Linked DNA regions of Homo sapiens: region 1 is linked to region 2. A link means that fine-mapping ties the variant in region 2 to the expression of a gene that starts in the linked region. Tissue or cell type: whole blood. Region 2 holds a variant in brackets; the other region holds the start of a gene. All regions are shown on one strand. Distances are between the middles of the regions.

Region 1 (8,067 bases), 32 kb after region 2:
GAATCATTCGAACCCAGGAGGCGGAGGTTGTGGTGAGCCGAGATCCTGCCACTGCACTCCAGCCTGAGCAACAGAGCAAGACTCCGTCTCAAAAAATAAAAAGAATAAATAAATCTCTTTTAATCTAGGAAAAATTTTTATATGTTTGTAGTCTGTTTTTTTTACTTAGCAGTATAACATAAGCATTTTCCTATGTTCTCAAAAACTCTTTGAAAGTATAACTTCTAATGTCTGCTTAATCAGCATATAAATATGAATACCATGTTTTCGCTGATATTTTCCTATTGTTGAACATTGGTGGTTTACAATTTTTGCTGCAAATGACATATATACATATTTTCATTATTTTGCATTTTTTTAGAACAGTTTACAAAAAGTTAGATTAATGAACCAAAGTCTAAACAATTTTAAGGCTCTTAATACGTATTATAGCTGAATTGCTTTCTGAAAGGGCTGTACTGGTTTTCTGTCCAGATAGGACTGGGTGGGGTCCCCCTCCCTCTCCACCCTTCACTGATCGTAAGGGAACTTCCACGCTGGGTGAGGCCAGCGGCCAATGCAGCCGCCTCGCTGAGCTCTCTCCCCTGAAGCTGGATATGCTGGCTTTACAGCCAGGACTCTGGAAGTGACTGAGGATTCCTCTGGTGACGCCCACGGAAGGTGTGGGGGGAGGAGGAACAGTGTTTCTGCAACGCAACTGGGAATGCTGAAAAAGTCATTGAAAGAGAGCACAGCAGCTGTGTGGACACTTGAAGTGGCGCCTGAGTAACTCACATGACCTGCTAGCAGATTGTTTTAACACACTGAAAACGTGGAGATTGTTTTATTATTTATTTATTGATTTATTTATTTTGAGACGGAGTTTCACTCTGTCACCCAGGCTGGAGTGCAGTGGCACGATCTTGGCTCACTGCAACCTCCACCCTCCGGGTTCAAATGATTCTCCTCCCTCAGCCTCCTGAGTAGCTGGGATTACAGGCGCCTGTCACCACGCCTGGCTAATTTTTTGTATTTTTAGTACAAATGGGGTTTCACCATCTTGGCCAGGCTGGTCTTGAACTCCTCACCTCGTGATCCACCCACCTCTGCCTCCCAAAGCTCTGGGATTACAGGCATGAGCCACCGCACCCAGCCGAAGATTGTTTTAACACAGTGTGAAAACATGAGCACAGAGACCCCTGAGCGGGCTGAGCTGGGGACTGGGGAGCGACACCCGTCACGGACGGTGCAGGGGCTGGGAACGTGGATCTTGCGTGTGAGTTCCTCCCATACTCAACAAGCCTTGCACATTCTGTTTCTGAACTAGATCTAACTTGGCAGCTGTGACCCCCTGGTGAGACTGCCGGATGTTCCCTCTCCCGCTTACCCTGCTTTCTTCCATGGGAAAAGAGCTCACATGCCCCAGGCTTCCTTGCCATAGAGTGTGGTCACGTGACTAACCATGTGAAGGGTGAGGTTCCCTCCTTCGCCCTTTCCTCTTCCCACTGGCTGGAACGTGGATGTGATGACTGGAGCTTGAGCAGTCATTTTGGACCAGGTGCTGGGACCATGTATTTAAGGTGGCAGAGCAACAAGCTGAAGGCATTCTGGGTCTCTGATGACTATAGTTCGGCCATACTAGTCCAGGACTAGCCAACTCCAGATTTTTGTTTTGCTTTGTTTTAAAGACAGAGTCTTACTCTGTCACCCAGGCTGGAGTGCAGTGGTGTGATCTTGGCTCACTGCAACCTCTGCCTCCCAGGTTCAAGCGATTCTCCTGCCTCAGCCTCCCGAGTAGCTGGGATTACAGGCGTGCACCACCATACCTGGCTAATTTTTGTATTTTTAGTAGAGACGGGGTCTCACCATGTTGGGCAAGCTGGTCTCGAACTCCTGACCTCAGGTGATCCACCCGCCTCGGCCTGCCAAAGCGCCGGGATTACAGGCATGAGCCACTGCGCCCGGCCAACTCCAGATTTCACTTATAGGAGAAATACACAGCTTGTTTAAGCCACCACCATTTTGCACACAGATCTGAATGTGTTCCATTTGGATTTGCCCCATCTGAGCTCACAGGTCCTCGGCCACCACTTCACTCGCTTGTCTTTGCCAAAGTGGCAAAGCTGTGGTCTCTGCTGCCATCCCAGCCTGCCAGGAGGTCCCCCAAGGAGAAACATGGGTGGGACCATGTTACCCCTTGGGGAAACCAGAGCCGACTGTTGGCCCTGGGCCTGGACCACAGCAGAGGGCTGCTGGGCTTGCCGGGGGGTGCTCTGGCCCCAGTGGGCCTGGAGCCGTTCCGTGTGACAGCGTCTGCCTGCGGAGCTCTGGCCCTGCCTCCCCAGCTTTGCAGCAGCTTTCAGAAGCAGACTCCTCGCCACACACGCTGCAGATAATGTGTGCCAGCCCACGGCCTGGGCCCCCACTCCCCGCAGCCCTTCCCTCCTCAGGGCACTCCACTGGACGGTCACTCTCAGGACACCCAGAGCCTGCCCAGCTGCCGCCCTCAGCCCAGGCTGCACAGAACGTGCTCAGGGACTGGGGATGCGGGGTGGAGGGCTCCTCCTCCGTTGTCTACACAGCCTGGGGCCAGCCACGTGTCCCCAGGACTCCAAGGATTCCCCAGTGGGGCCCAGAAAGCAGGGGCTTGGGTAGGAGCAGACAGTTTCTTTGGGAGTCTGTCTCGTCGTCAGTCCTCCTTGCCCCAGTTTCTCCTCTAAGGGAATCAGCACTGGACCTGTGGGGTGGGGGGCCGTGGCCCGGGGTGGGGGGCCGTGGCCCGGGGTGGGGGAGGCCGTGGCCCGGGGTGGGGGAGGCCGTGGCCCGGGGTGGGGGGCCGTGGCCCGGGGTGGGGGGCATGGCCTGGGGTGGGATGCTTTTGGAGGGAACATGGGGATGTGTGAGCGGGGGTGAGAGAGGCAAGGCAAGTGGGGGCGTTGGTGCTGGCTCTGTCAGGGGCTCTGTGCCATCCTGCTTCCCCCTAGGACCAGGTGTCATGAGACCCATCTCACAGTGGAAACCCCCTTCCCGGGAACTCCAGCCTAGGAATTCCCCTCTGGCCCCTGACCCGCCATCTGGGCTCCAGGAAGGTGTCCCAGGCTCCAGGGGCTGGGGTACTCTCCTGGCCTGGATGCTGGCTCCGCCCCGACTACACCCAGGCGCGGCAGCTGCAGGACGCTGGAGGAGGAGGAGGGAGGGGCGAGCCCCACGCGGAAGTCAGGTAGGAGCACCCGCCGCTGGCAGCCACTCTCCTGGCCGCCAAACCCCAGCTGGAACTCCGGCCACAGCCAGCATGCAGGTGAGTCCTGCGCTCAAAAGGGTCCACACCTTCAAGGCCCCCAGCCACGCCCACACCTGGGGCCCCCGGCCCCAGCCCCCCGCCAGCCCCACCTGGAAGGCGCCTGTGTGTGTGGGGGGGGTCCCTGCAGGCTGCCCGGTCAGGCGAGGGTGACCGCCCGGCTCAGCTAAGCTGCCTCCTGGACTCCTGGGGCACGCTGGGGGTTGGAAGTGCTGGAGGCGGGCGGCGTTCCTCCCTCCAGCCCGGGATTCTGAGGGCACCAGGGCTGGGCTCTCAGCTAGTGTGTGGGGCCAGGAACCTCTACCAGAGTCCTGAACACGAGATGGAGAGGGCCTGCCCACCGAGGCGGGGGCTGCTGCTGAGGACCCCAGACCTGGCAGCTTTGCCTTGCAGCTGGCCCCTAAGGGGGAGCGGGCTGTGGGCACCAGGCAGGCTGCCCCAGGGTTGGGAGCTGCAGAGTGGCCGGCGGGCTGTGGGCTCTCTGCTCCCCAAGGACCCCGCCCAGCACAGGTGGGGGCCGACTGCTGCTGCTGGATTCCGATTCTGGGGGTGGGCGCTGACTGCTGCTGCTGGATTCCGATTCTGGGGGAGGGAGTGCAGGTGAACACGTAGAAAGACATCCTTTCTCCCCTCTGCCAGTGAAGAGGTCACCTGGGGCCAGGGCCAACACCTGGGCAGGTCAGCACCTGGTCGGCCCAGGGAGGAGGCAGTGGTGAGGTGTGGAGTGAAACCAGCCTCCCTCTCGGCCTGCCAGGGCCTCCACGTGTGGGCTGCGCCGGCGGCCTCTTGCTCCATCTCCGCCCAGGGCTCTCCTCGGCCCTCCACATCCAGGTCTGACACCCTGGCTGCTCAGCCCAGCACCTGATGCCCCTTAGCCTGAGCTCAGGGTCCCCTCTGCCAGCCCCTTCCTCCCATGCTGGGGGTTAGAGGAGAGACTTGGGGCTGGCCAGGGGTTGGGTTGGGAGAAGCAGCACCTGGTTTGTTGGAAGTGAGAGCATCAGTCCTTCAAAAAAGACAGTTGCAGCCGGGCCTGGTGGCGCATGCCTGTGGTCCCGGCTACTCCGGAAGCTGAGGCAAGAGGATTGCTTGAACCCGGGCGTCGTGGCATGCACCTGCAGTCTCAGCTACTCAGGAGGCTGAGGCAGGAGGACTGCTCGAACCCGGGCGTGGTGGCGCGTGCCTGCGCTCCCAGCTACTCGGGAGGCTGAGGCAGGAGGACTGCTGGAACCCGGGCGTGGTGGCATGAGCCTGCGGTCCCAGCTACTCCGGAGGCTGAGGCAGGAGGGTTGCTCGAGCCTGGGAGTTCTGGGCTGTAGTGTGTTAGGCTGACTGGCTGTCCGCACATCAGTATGGTGACCTCCCAGGAGCAGGGGACCACCAAGTTGCCTAAGGAGGGGTGAACCGGTCCAGGTCGGAAACGGAGCAGGTCAAAACTCCTGTGGTGATCAAAAAGGACAGTTGCAGACATGGGGAGGACTTGCTAGTCCCAGCTCCAGGCTGGATCTGGGCGTGCCTTTCCTCTGCTCTAACCCCTTCCATGGCTCCCCACTGCCCCCTGCTGAAGTCCAAGCTCTCCATTTGGCCAAGAAGCCTAGCAGCCTCCCCTGATTGGCCTCTGCCAACCTCCAGCCTCCCCTTCTGGCAGCTCCCTTCTTGCCCTTTATGCTTCTGCAAAGCTGAAGTACCAAGGACTGAGTCCCTGGACTCAGTTTCCGTAGGTGCCGAGTGCTGAGTCACCAGGAGTAGTAGCTACCAAGTCCTCCTTGGAGGTGCTGAGTGCTGAGTCCCTGGGAGGTGCTGACTGCTGAGTCCCAGACACCAACTGCACCCTGATTCTCAGGGCGTGCCCACACATGTTCTTTCTCCCGGGAATGCTGCCCCCATTTTCTCACCTTTTGCCAACCTCTTGCCCTACAATGCCAAGCTCCATGCCTCCTCACCTGCCAAGTAGGCCCCCGCCCCTGCGTCCACGAACGCCACGCACTGCCTGGGAGGGCTGCACGCAGGTCGCTCCGTCAGTGTCTGGGGATGGACGGGCACACGGATGGGTGAACTGACAGATGACAGACTGGACAGCTGGAGGGGCCGGGGGGTGGGCAGAAGACTGGCTTCAGGAGCGCAGAGCCAGCTGGGGAGGGTTTGCTCAGAGGATGCGTGGGCTGGGCAGAGGCGAGACGCTGTGGCTCACAAGGTGGGCCTCTCCATGCTTGGGACTGCGGTGGGGCAGAAGGGGACCCTCTGTGGATGACGAAACTGTAAAGTTCTCAAGGGCCAGATCCCAGAGGGCTCAGGGCACCGGCCAAGAGGCTTGACGTGACCTCAGGAGGAGATGAGGCCCAAACACCTTCCCATGCACAGCTGGGGGGATGTGCGTCGTGGGACCCCCTGGCCAGGCCTGCTCCTTCTCATGCACAGCTGGGGGGATGTGCGTCATGGGACCCCCTGGCCAGGCCTCTCAGGAGTAGGGTGGGGTCATATCTGCACAACCATCTCCTCTGCCTGCCCCCAACCTGGAGGCTGGACTGGGAAGAGGATGGATGGGCAGGACCCCCAGCTCTGTCCTCACACTCCAGCCCTTGGGAGGGAGGGTCTCCTGCAGGCTACAGTGTCTCCAGAAGCTTCCTCACTGGGAACCAGGGGCTTGCCCACTGGACGCTGGCCTATGCCCACAATGGGGGTGCCAAGAGCCCCCCACAAACTCCCTGGGGCCCTGGAGTACTGGGTGTGTCACCTGTGAGGGCTGTGGGACAGGAAGGATGGGGGAGAACAGTGTGTGGTTCTGTCCACCTTCTTCCTGTGTCTGCACGTCGCTGAGGTGACCTGGGGGCTGGGGTGAGGACACCCTGTTGTACAGACGAGGAAACTGAGGCCTGGGGTGTTTCGGTGGCGTCAGAGCTAGGGCCTGGCCGGCTGTCCACCCAGAGCCGGCCTCCCTCTCTGGGTTTGCAGATGGCAAGGCTGGCTGAAGCTTCAGAGGCCCTCAGACTGAGTGTGTAGGGACAGCCCCTGTCCCTACCCTGGGAGCTGGAAGCCTGTGGGCCCATACATAGTTTCCCGGAGGTGGGGCCCATGGACTGGGGACATGGGGGTCCCAGACATCTCACTGTGGATAAACCGAACAGTCTGCATGGCTGGAAGTGGAGGTGACTTCAGGTGGTCCAGCCCTCACCTGTGAAGACCCCGAGGGTGGTGTGGAGAAGCCAGGCTCCCGTGGTCCGTAAACACTGGCCCTGGAGACGGATGGACAGATGGATGGCCTGGTCCTGTAGGCTGGTGGCTGTGGCCCGGGGGATGGGCCGGTGGGTGTGGCTCCGTAAACACTGGCCCTGGAGACGGATGGACAGATGGACGGCCCGGTCCTGGAGGCTGGTGGGCCCAGTGTTCTGCAGCAGAGTCTCGGAGCCTGAGGCCTGTCTGGCTGTGTGTGTTGGGGGGGCTACACCTGCCTGGCTGTGTGTGTCAGGGGGTGGCTACACCTGTCTGGCTGTGTGTGTCAGGGGGGCTACACCTATCTGGCTGTGTGAGTCGGGGGGGGGCTACACCTGTCTGGCTGTGTGTGTTGGGGGGACTCCACCTGTCTGGCTGTGTGTGTCGGCGGGGGCTACACCTGGCAGCCCTAGTGCTTCTGCCTTGTCCGAGGGAGCAGCTAAGGGCAGCCAGGGGCTGGCACGCCCCAGGTGTGCGTGTAGCTCTGCCCTGGGGGGAGGGCTCCCTGTCAGCCCACGTCAGTGATGGGGGCTTTGCACCCCATTCCCCAGGGGAGGCTGATCCTGCTGTTTGCAGAGGCGTGGGGTCATCACCCCAGTGCTGCACGGTGTCTTTGGTGGGGAGGGGGTTTCTGTGCCTCATTTCTGGGGTGAACGATGGCTTCCCACCCCCACCTTTGAGAATGTTCCCCAGGGACAGTCCCCTCTCCCAGGCTTCTCCGAAAGTCCTGCCTGGTCTGGGGTCCCTGCCTCGTCCCTTCCTTCTCAGGGGTCTGGGCTTATCCTGCCGGCTTTCAACTTTCGGCCCAGGCTGATGTGAGGGGGTCTCTAATTTCAGCCTCTGCCAGAGGAGCTGGGGTTCTGGGCAGAGGAGGGACCCTCATCCTGGGTCTGAAGCCAGGCATGTGAGGGGCCATTCTCCCATGAATCCCTCCAACACAACACTTCCCGGGCCCCTACGGAGGCAAGCTGCAGAGCTGGAGCCGTGATGCCCACGTCCCCCAGACCACCAGTCCCCCCCAGGGAGGCTGCCCTCTGCGCTGAGACAGAGGTGCCTCTCCTGCCTGGGCAGGTGCCACGCCCCTTCCTGCATATCTGTCGGAGGATGAAGGTTTCTCCTCTAACCCAGGACGGGGGAGAAGTTTCAGTGTGGCAGGCCACGCCTGAGTGCAGGTATCTGTCCGTGGGCTGTCGGGAAGGCCAAGGAGGGAGTCAGAGGAAGGGTTGATTGAGGCAGGAAGAACTACTGGTCTAGGATAGGACAGAAGGGCCAGGTGAGCCCCGTGGGCCAACTAGGGCAAGAACTTCCCCCCGCAGGGAGGCTGCAGTGTGGCACTGGGTGCTCAGATGGTGTCTACCTGAGCCCATCTCCCTGTGACCGGGGCGTCGGATGCCTTAGTGCAGTGCTCCCCAACCTTTTCAGCACCAGGGACCAGTTTCGCAGAAGACAATTTTCCCACAGCTGTGGGTGTGGTGGGATGGTTTTGGGATGAAATCGTCTCACCTCAGATCATCAGGCATTAGATTCTCATAAGGAGCAGCCGAGATCCCTGCATGCGCAGTGCACAATGGGGTTCTTCCTCC
Region 2 (8,067 bases):
GTTGGGGAAGGCCCCAGCTCCCCAGATCAGAAAGGTGGCATCTCGGACTCCTCTCCCCACTCACGCTTCCCACCCGACCAGCACCAGGCTGCCGCCCCGGAATACCCAGCAGGCCCTTGGTCTGCATTCCTGGGTCGCTTCCCGGAGCAGCTCCAGCACCTCCCTGACCCCAGGGCCACCCCCCAGGCCCCAGCACTCATTTGTCTTTCTAAACATCACACCAGAGGGGAAAGACAGACAGGCAGCCTCAGCAGCCCTGGAAATGCTGTGGCTGACACAGCCTTCAGAGGGAGCCAGGAAGAAAATGCCGTTCACACAGGAGGGATGCCCTCCTCAGTGGCCCAGAACGTTCCACCTCCCTCAGAGCTGCAGCCAACTCAAGTTTCCAAAGAAAGCAGCACCCCAGATGGCCGGGCTGGGCCCATTTCCACTCCTCCTCATGAGGCCCAGTCACTAATGGCTACGGCTACAGCTGCCGGACTGGGCATTCCTGGGCCAGACCCAGGGGAGTGTGAAGGTGGGCAGAGCCCACAGGGACCACCTTTCTGGAGAAAGCCCTTCTCCCTGCCCCCCACCCAGAGCCTCCGCTGCACAGGACTCATCACTTGTCCACTTCAATGTGTTGTGACTGCAGAGAGTTGAGGGCTCCCTGCCGGCCCCCAAGTTAACAAGACGCGTGGAAGAAGGTGGCTCCAGGACAGGCTTCCCCGTCAATAAATCGAAGATTGGCAAAGTAATATGGAATTTATGCCAAGCAAACTAAACGGACAGAAGAAAGGTAGAGCAGAGCTCAGACTAAAAACTGAACACCCCAGGAACCCCCAGTCCTGCCCAGTGGGAGGGGACGAGCCACAACTCAAGAGACGCCGCGGCCGGAGCTTTTGGAAGCGCCAAGACCTTCAGGCCCAGATGCTCCACATCCCGCCAGGTGACCTGCGCCAGAGCTCCTGACTGCTCAGAGCTGAGGGTCTCCCGGGAGTCTCTCCCTGTGCCAGGGGTCACATGCCAGGACAAGCTGCTGCCTGCTGACCAGTCTGTCCCACTCACGGCTGCGTCCCAGTCCCCAGTGATGCCGCCACCCAGGAGGGATTTGGTGCATCTCCAAGCAAGGACGGCCATGGGTTGAGCTTCCGGCAGCTTTTCTTCCCTCCAAATCCACCCAACAAGCACGTAACTGCACCAGGCTTTTCACTGTGTGCCGGGAAGTTTCTCACCATCACCGCGCCAGGCCTTTCACTGTGTGACGGGCAGTTTCTCACCGTCACGGCGCCAGGCTTTTCACTGTGTGACGGGCAGTTTCTCACCATCACTGCACCTTCCACGGCTCTGCTGAGGAATCCAAACCCCTTGGAGGCAAGACCGTCTGTGCTCAGCCGGCTGGGCAGACAGGGCCCTGGGCCCTTCCCACACAGCTGTCAGCCAGCAGAGTGGCCTGCCAGGCACTCAAGGAGCCCTCTCTCAAGGCCCTGGGCAAGGAAGGGGCCAGCAAGACCAGCCTGCTTGGGTCACCGGACGGCTCCCTGCTCAGGGCCTCTGTGGGTGGGGGAGCTTCACTCACCACCATGGCACTGACCCTGGGGCAGACACTGCTCTCCTGGAGGCCAATTTTATAACACATATCACAGGCTTAAACTGTGTATGCCCTTTAATTCAATACTCACTTCTGGGACATTTTATTAAATGAATAATCAGATATTTACACAGAGCATACGTGAAAAAATTCACCACAGCCTAGTTTATTAAAATAAAACTGGAAACTCTCTAAATATACAATATTATGGCTTAAATAAGTTAGTTAAATGTAGTACATTCTAATGACAGCAAACAAGCAGTCATTAAAATTTCGGGTGTTAAAAAATTAGTAAGGAAATGACTAAAGTCATTTAAACCTAAATGATTAAAGTCATTTTAAAAATTAGTAAGGAAATGACTAAAGTCGTTGAACCTGAAGTGGAGAATGCACAAAGCCACGTGTTCAGGATTCCACTCTTTCGAGGCTGTGAATATGTCTGTACACACAAACGCGTGAATATGTCCTACACACAAACGCGTGAATGTCCGTATCACACAAACACGTGAATATGGCCGTATCACACAAACGCGTGAATATGTCTGTATCACAAATGCGTGAATATATCCGTATCACACAAACGCGTGAATGTCTGTACACACAAATGCGTGAATATGTCTGTATCACAAACGCGTGAATATGTCCATACACACAAATATGTGAATATGTCCTACACACAAACGCGTGAATGTCCGTATCACACAAACGCGTGAATATGGCCGTATCACACAAACGCGTGAATATGGCCGTATCACAAACGCGTGAATATGTCCGTACACACAAACACGTGAACATGTCCATATACACAAAGACGTGATTATGTCCATATCATAAACGCGTGAATATGTCCGTATCACAAACGCGTGAATATGTCCGTATCACACAAACGCGTGAATATGTCCGTATCACACAAACGCGTGAATATGTCCCACACACAAACACGTGAATGTGTCCATATCACACAAACGCGTGAATGTCCGTATCACACAAACACGTGAATATGTCCGTATCACACAAACTCGTGAATATGTCCGTATCACAAACGCGTGAACATGTCCATATACACAAAGACATGATTATGTCCGTATCATAAACGCGTGAATATGTCCGTACACGAACGTGTGAATATGTCCGCACACACAAACACGTGAATATGTCCGTATACACAAACAAGTGAATATGTCCGTATCACAAACACGTGAAAATTTAACAGTGGTTATTATTTGTGGGTAGCTTTATTTTTAAGTATCTTTGTATTTTCGAAATTTTCTATAATACATACTCCTGTTGAAACAGAAAATGTTTCTAATTACTTCGTGTGGCCACTCAGGGGAAACAACCGACCCTACAGAAGCCTGAGCCCGCCTTCCTGGGGTGGGACTTGGGGGACAGAGTACACTGAGATTGGCGGGATGCTCTGGCCCACGAGGGTTTGTTAGAACTCAGGGCCATAAGGTGGGGTGGTGGCTGAGGCAGAGTGCGCTGGGCAACCACTTCAAGGGCAGGGGGTGGGCGGCACCTCACAGCTCCATCTGGAGCCCTCACCCACCCGCCCATGGCCTCACAGCCCCATCTGGAGCCCTCACCCACCCGCCCATGGCCTCACAGCCCCATCTGGCGCCCTCACCCACCCCCGCCCCCTCTGGTCTCAGAGTCCCACCTAGAGCCCACAGTCCCTGGCCTCACAGCCCCATCTGGTGCCCTCACCCACCTGCCCCCGGCCTCATAGCCCCATCTGGAGCCCTCGGCCACTCTGGTCTGTGGAAAGAGGAGGCAGAAGCAGGAAGAGAAGGGCTGGAGAGCCCTGGACAGGGAAGAGTGAAAGGGCCAGAGAAGGCCTGGAGAGACCCTCGGTGGTTGGAGGAGGAGCACACGGCCAGCTCAGAACCCCACGCCCTTGTCCATGTGGGAAGTGGCCTCGGAGGCCTCGGGGAGGGGCCAGGCGGAGGGGAGGACAGGACACTCACACCCAGCAGCACAGACACAGAGTGGCCGCTCAGAACAGAAATGCCACAGGGGCACACGGAAAAGGAAATGGCAAGTTACCTGGATGAGGTCTGGAAAATGGCCCGTCTTTAGCTTGTGTGACTCCAAAACATAAGAAAACCAAAATACTGGCCACAATACCTCTGCAAATAAAGAACAAACAGCCCCTCAGTGTGTGCAGGCTTCTCCCAGGAGGGAGGTGGGAGGCTGCAGGGACCCCCAGACACCCATTGTGGAACAGCCCCTGATGCTGGGGCGGGAGGAAGGGGCCTCGGGCAGAGCTGGGCGACTCCGCCGCGGGGAAAGCCCAGCTACCTCCACCACCCTGGGCCGGACATTCGCCCTCACATTTGCCGCCTCCGCGGCAGGGAAGGCCCAGCTACCTCCACCACCCTGGGCTGGACATTCGCGCTCACATTTGCCTCCTCCGCGGCAGGGAAGGCCCAGCTACCTCCACCACCCTGCACCCAACATTCGCCCTCACATTTGCAGCCCGCCCAGTGGCCAGGAGAAGGTCCCTGTGCTTGGGCTGCTGGTGGTTCCCAGTGTCACATCAGGAAGACACTGGCTCTACACAGAGGCCACCGAATGCCCCGCATGTGACCATCAGTGATCACAAAGCCCACGTAGGAGGGAAGGCGTCAGGAGCTACTGCCTCCCTGCTCCAACGCGGCAGGACCCCCAGGAAGTGTCTCTAGAGAGCTCCTGTGTCTTTTTGGTGTCAACTCATCCAAAACCAACGGGACTCCTGTGATTCATAAGATGGAAGCGTGAGAGCTGTAACTGCAACCAAAGATGCAGGTTCACGGGAAGGAGGATGCGAGGGACCGCTCTGGGCAGGGGCAAGGTGCTCCCTCCTCGGCAAAGCTCCTTGGGGCCGGCCTCAGCCAGAGTCCCAGTGGGTTTCGGTGAGCAGCAGCTTAGGCCGGCGGATGTGCAGACAGCCCTGGTCACAGGCACACTGCTCACATCCGCTCGCTGCACCCAAGGTGTGGACCCGCTCTGCGGACGCGCTCTGTGCTCTGCAGACGCTCGGATGCACCCATCCTCTCCAGTCGTGCTCAGCTCAGGGTCTGAGATCCACTGGCCGCTGCACCACCCAGTCCCTCCCACGGCTCGGCAGTGCCGTGCCGACAGTCACACCTTGGCGTGTTCGCACGCTGGGCGGCCTCTGGGTTTTGGCTGCCGTGAGGGAAGCTGCACACACACACGCACGTTCGTGTGGCCGCAAGAATAGACGGGGCCACAGAGACACGCTATCTATTTTTTAAGACAGCGCTGTTAAAAAATACCCAGTAACAACTTCAGTCTCAGAAATTCCCCTCTCTGCCTGCAGGAGTGCCTGGCCTCAAAGTCCTGAGTAGACAGAGGCAGGTGAGGCCAAGCACCGCCCGAGGCTTGCAGGATGGAGGAGGGCACAAGGTCGCTGGCCCCTGGTGCAGCCGGGACAAGGGTCTACTG[C/G]TTCTGGGCAGGTGCTGCTCTCCACCCAGAGCCCTGAGGGTCTCACCCTCGGCAGGACATTCATGGCCCACCCAGGCGAAACCTGAGTTTCTGACCCGGTCTCCACCCAGGCCCCAGCTCCCACACTACCGCTGTCAGCCTCCAGGGACAGAGGCAGAGATGCCCTCGCTGCTGGGTTCAGCAAGGTGGGGCCCGCGTCCCTGTCACCGGTACCCCTCCCGAGGTCTCTCAGTGCTGAGGGGTGGGAGGTGTAAAAAGTACCTTTCAGGGCCCCCTGGAGCCAGACATAGGCCCCACCTCAGCTGTGCCTCCAAGGGGCGTGGGGAGGGTCATAACATTCAGTGGAAAGACAGTAAAACGTCCCCCTACCCTCCCCAGAAAAGATAAAAATGAAAAGAGGAACATGGGCACTGGCCAAGGGAAGCTGCTCCCGGTGCAGGCGCACGTCACCCCAGGCCGCCATCCGCGTCACCCCAGGCTACCATCTGTGTCACCCCAGGCCGCCATCCGCGTTACCCCAGGCCACCATCCGCCCGACAGGCGCGCATCACCCCAGGCCGCCATCCGCGTCACCCCAGGCCGCCATCCGCGTCACCCCAGGCCGCCATCTGCATCACCCCAGGCCGCCATCCACGTCACCCCAGGCCACCATCTGCCCGACAGGTGCGCGTCACCCCAGGCCGCCATCCACCAGACAGGTGCGCGTCACCCCAGGCCACCATCCGCGTCACCCCAGGCCACCATCCGCGTCACCCCAGGCCGCCATCCACGTCACCCCAGGCCACCATCTGCGTCACCCCAGGCCGCCATCCGCGTCACCCCAGGCCACCATCTGCGTCACCCCAGGCCGCCATCCACGTCACCCCAGGCCACCATCCGCCCGACAGGCGCGCGTCACCCCAGGCCGCCATCCACCAGACAGGTGCGTGTCACCCCAGGCCGCCCTCCGCCTGACAGGCGCGTGTCATCCCAGGCCACCATCCGTGTCACCCCAGGCCGCCCTCCGCCCGACAGGCGTGCGTCACCCCAGGCCGGTGCTCCCTGAATCAGCTTGTGGCAGCCCCCACACGGCATGCTGCCCAGAGGCCAGCTCAGACCGGGTCACACAGGACTCTAACCTGGCCACACATCACATAATGTTTATGACAACTTTATAAGGCTAATTTGTTCATAAGAATTACTTGCCGGGCACAGTGGTTCACACCTGTAATCTTAGCACTTTGGGAGGCTGAGGTAGGTGGATCATTAAAGGTCAGGAGTTCGAGACCAGCCTGGCCGACATGAAACTCCTGTCTCTACTAAAAATATAAGAAATTAGCCAGGTGTGGTGGCAGACGCCTGTAATCCCAGCTACTCGGGAGGCTGAAGTAGGAGAATCACTTGAATCTGGGAGGTAGAGGTTGCAGTGAGCTGAGATCGCGCCACTGCACTCCAGCCTGGGTGACAGCAAGACTCAGTCTCAAAAAAAAAAAAAAAAAAGAATTACTTAAGTACTTGAGAAGGTGTGTCCCGTTGGGTAAGAATGAGGGAAGTGCTTTAAAAGGAAAACAAATATATTGCATTTTAAAAATAAATTTTTAATTTTAGAATGGTTTTAGATTTACAGAATTATTGTAAAAATAGTAAAAGCTCCCATATCTCACAGGCCCAGTTTTCCCATTAACATCTCACCATTAATAAGCCGGTGCTGGCTGGGTGCGGTGGCTCACGCCTGTAATCCCAGCACTTTGGGAGGCTGAGGCAGGCGGATCACAAGGTCAGGAGTTCGAGACCAGCCTGACCAACATGGTGAAACCCCATCTCTACTAAAAATACACAAATTAGCCAGATGTGGTGGCAGGCACCTGTAATCCCAGCTACTCGGGAGGCTGAGGCAGGAGAATCACTTGAACCCGAGAGGCGGAGGTTGCAGTGAGCCGAGATCACGCCACTACACTCCAGCCTGGGTGACACAGTGATACTCTGTCTCAAAAAATAAAATAAAATAAACATAAAAAATAAAAAATAAATAAGCCAGTGCTGCCACACAGCTGCTGAGGCCTACACTTCCTTCGCTCTCCCCTGATGTCCTTCCCCCTGCCCCGCCCCCAACAATCTCTTCCTGGAAGCCACATGGCATCTACTCGTTCTGTCTCTTCAGGCTCCCCGAGGCTGGGACGGTTTCTCAGACTCTCCTTGTCTCTGATGACCTGGATGGTTTGGAGGAGGCCTGGTCAGGAATTCTGTGGAATGTTCCTTAGTGAGATGGTCGACTATGCCTCTGCATGGCCGGGCTGGGGTCGTCGGGGTTGGGAGGATGGGGCAGCAGCCTCCCCGTCGGCCACGCCATGAACATGACCAGTGCATGCTGACCTGACCACTGGGCTTGGGGGTGTCTGCGGGCACCTCGGCTGCAGCGTCCTCCTCCCACTGCCCTCTCCGTGCTGCACGCCCAGGAAGGAGGTCAGGTCACCACGCGCAGCGCACAGCGGTGCCGGGAGCTCACGCCAGCTCCTGGAATGGGGGGATCTACCTCATTTACTGAAAACCTTCTGCAGGGAAGGTTGGTCTTGTTCCCTCTGTTTATTTACTCAATCACTTATATCACTATGGGCTCGTGGATGTTTATTTTCTACTCTGGGTTATATTCTAATACTACTTTATTATTTTGTTGCTCTTTGGCCACTGGGAGGCTCTTTCACTGGGACGCAATCCCGTGACTGTGGGGTTTTGTTTACAGAGCTCCTCACTTTCTGGAACTGCCAGGATCAGCTGATCCTGGGCATTTCCTGCCCCGGTGCTGGAATCAGCCATTTCTCCTCAGAGCCCTGGCCCCGTGGACTGGAGGGCACTAGGAACCAGGATCTGGGCCTGGGTGTGCTCACTGCTGCAAGCATAGCTGGTTCTAGGCCCCCTCAGCTTGTACAGCAACAAGATCTGTGTGTATCCATTAACCACTGCGCACACACTGTTTAACCATCTTTGTCTCTTCTGGGCTAAACGTGCAATGGTAATCCACCATCACAGCGGCCACTCCAACCTCGTCCCTCTGATTACCCGGAGACTCCCCT

The links. PIP is the estimated chance that this variant, and not a neighbour inherited with it, causes the effect.
Region 1: it holds the start of ANO9, and the variant in region 2 is fine-mapped to the expression of ANO9 in whole blood (INTERVAL, PIP above 0.99).

What each region holds. Positions count from the first base shown.
Region 1 is chr11:437,131-445,197 of GRCh38, reverse strand. ANO9 (anoctamin 9) reads left to right here and starts at 3,187. Exons shown (of 23, transcript NM_001012302.3): 1 at 3,187-3,277. The coding sequence starts at 3,272. It overlaps LOC105376506 (a long non-coding RNA gene), which reads right to left. Exons shown (of 5, transcript XR_007062542.1): 3 at 6,447-8,067; 4 at 5,218-5,299; 5 at 4,525-4,713. It also overlaps the pseudogene RN7SL838P. RefSeq lists enhancers at 1,789-2,586, 2,894-3,163 and silencers at 2,995-3,289, 3,334-3,413.
Region 2 is chr11:469,527-477,593 of GRCh38, reverse strand. It overlaps PTDSS2 (phosphatidylserine synthase 2), which reads right to left. Exons shown (of 12, transcript NM_030783.3): 3 at 3,617-3,699. Among named protein-coding and RNA genes, the nearest start is that of PTDSS2, 23 kb to the right of the region's middle. RefSeq lists enhancers at 1-701, 5,214-5,736, 5,737-6,260. The variant C/G (reference allele first, on the strand shown) is at 5,018.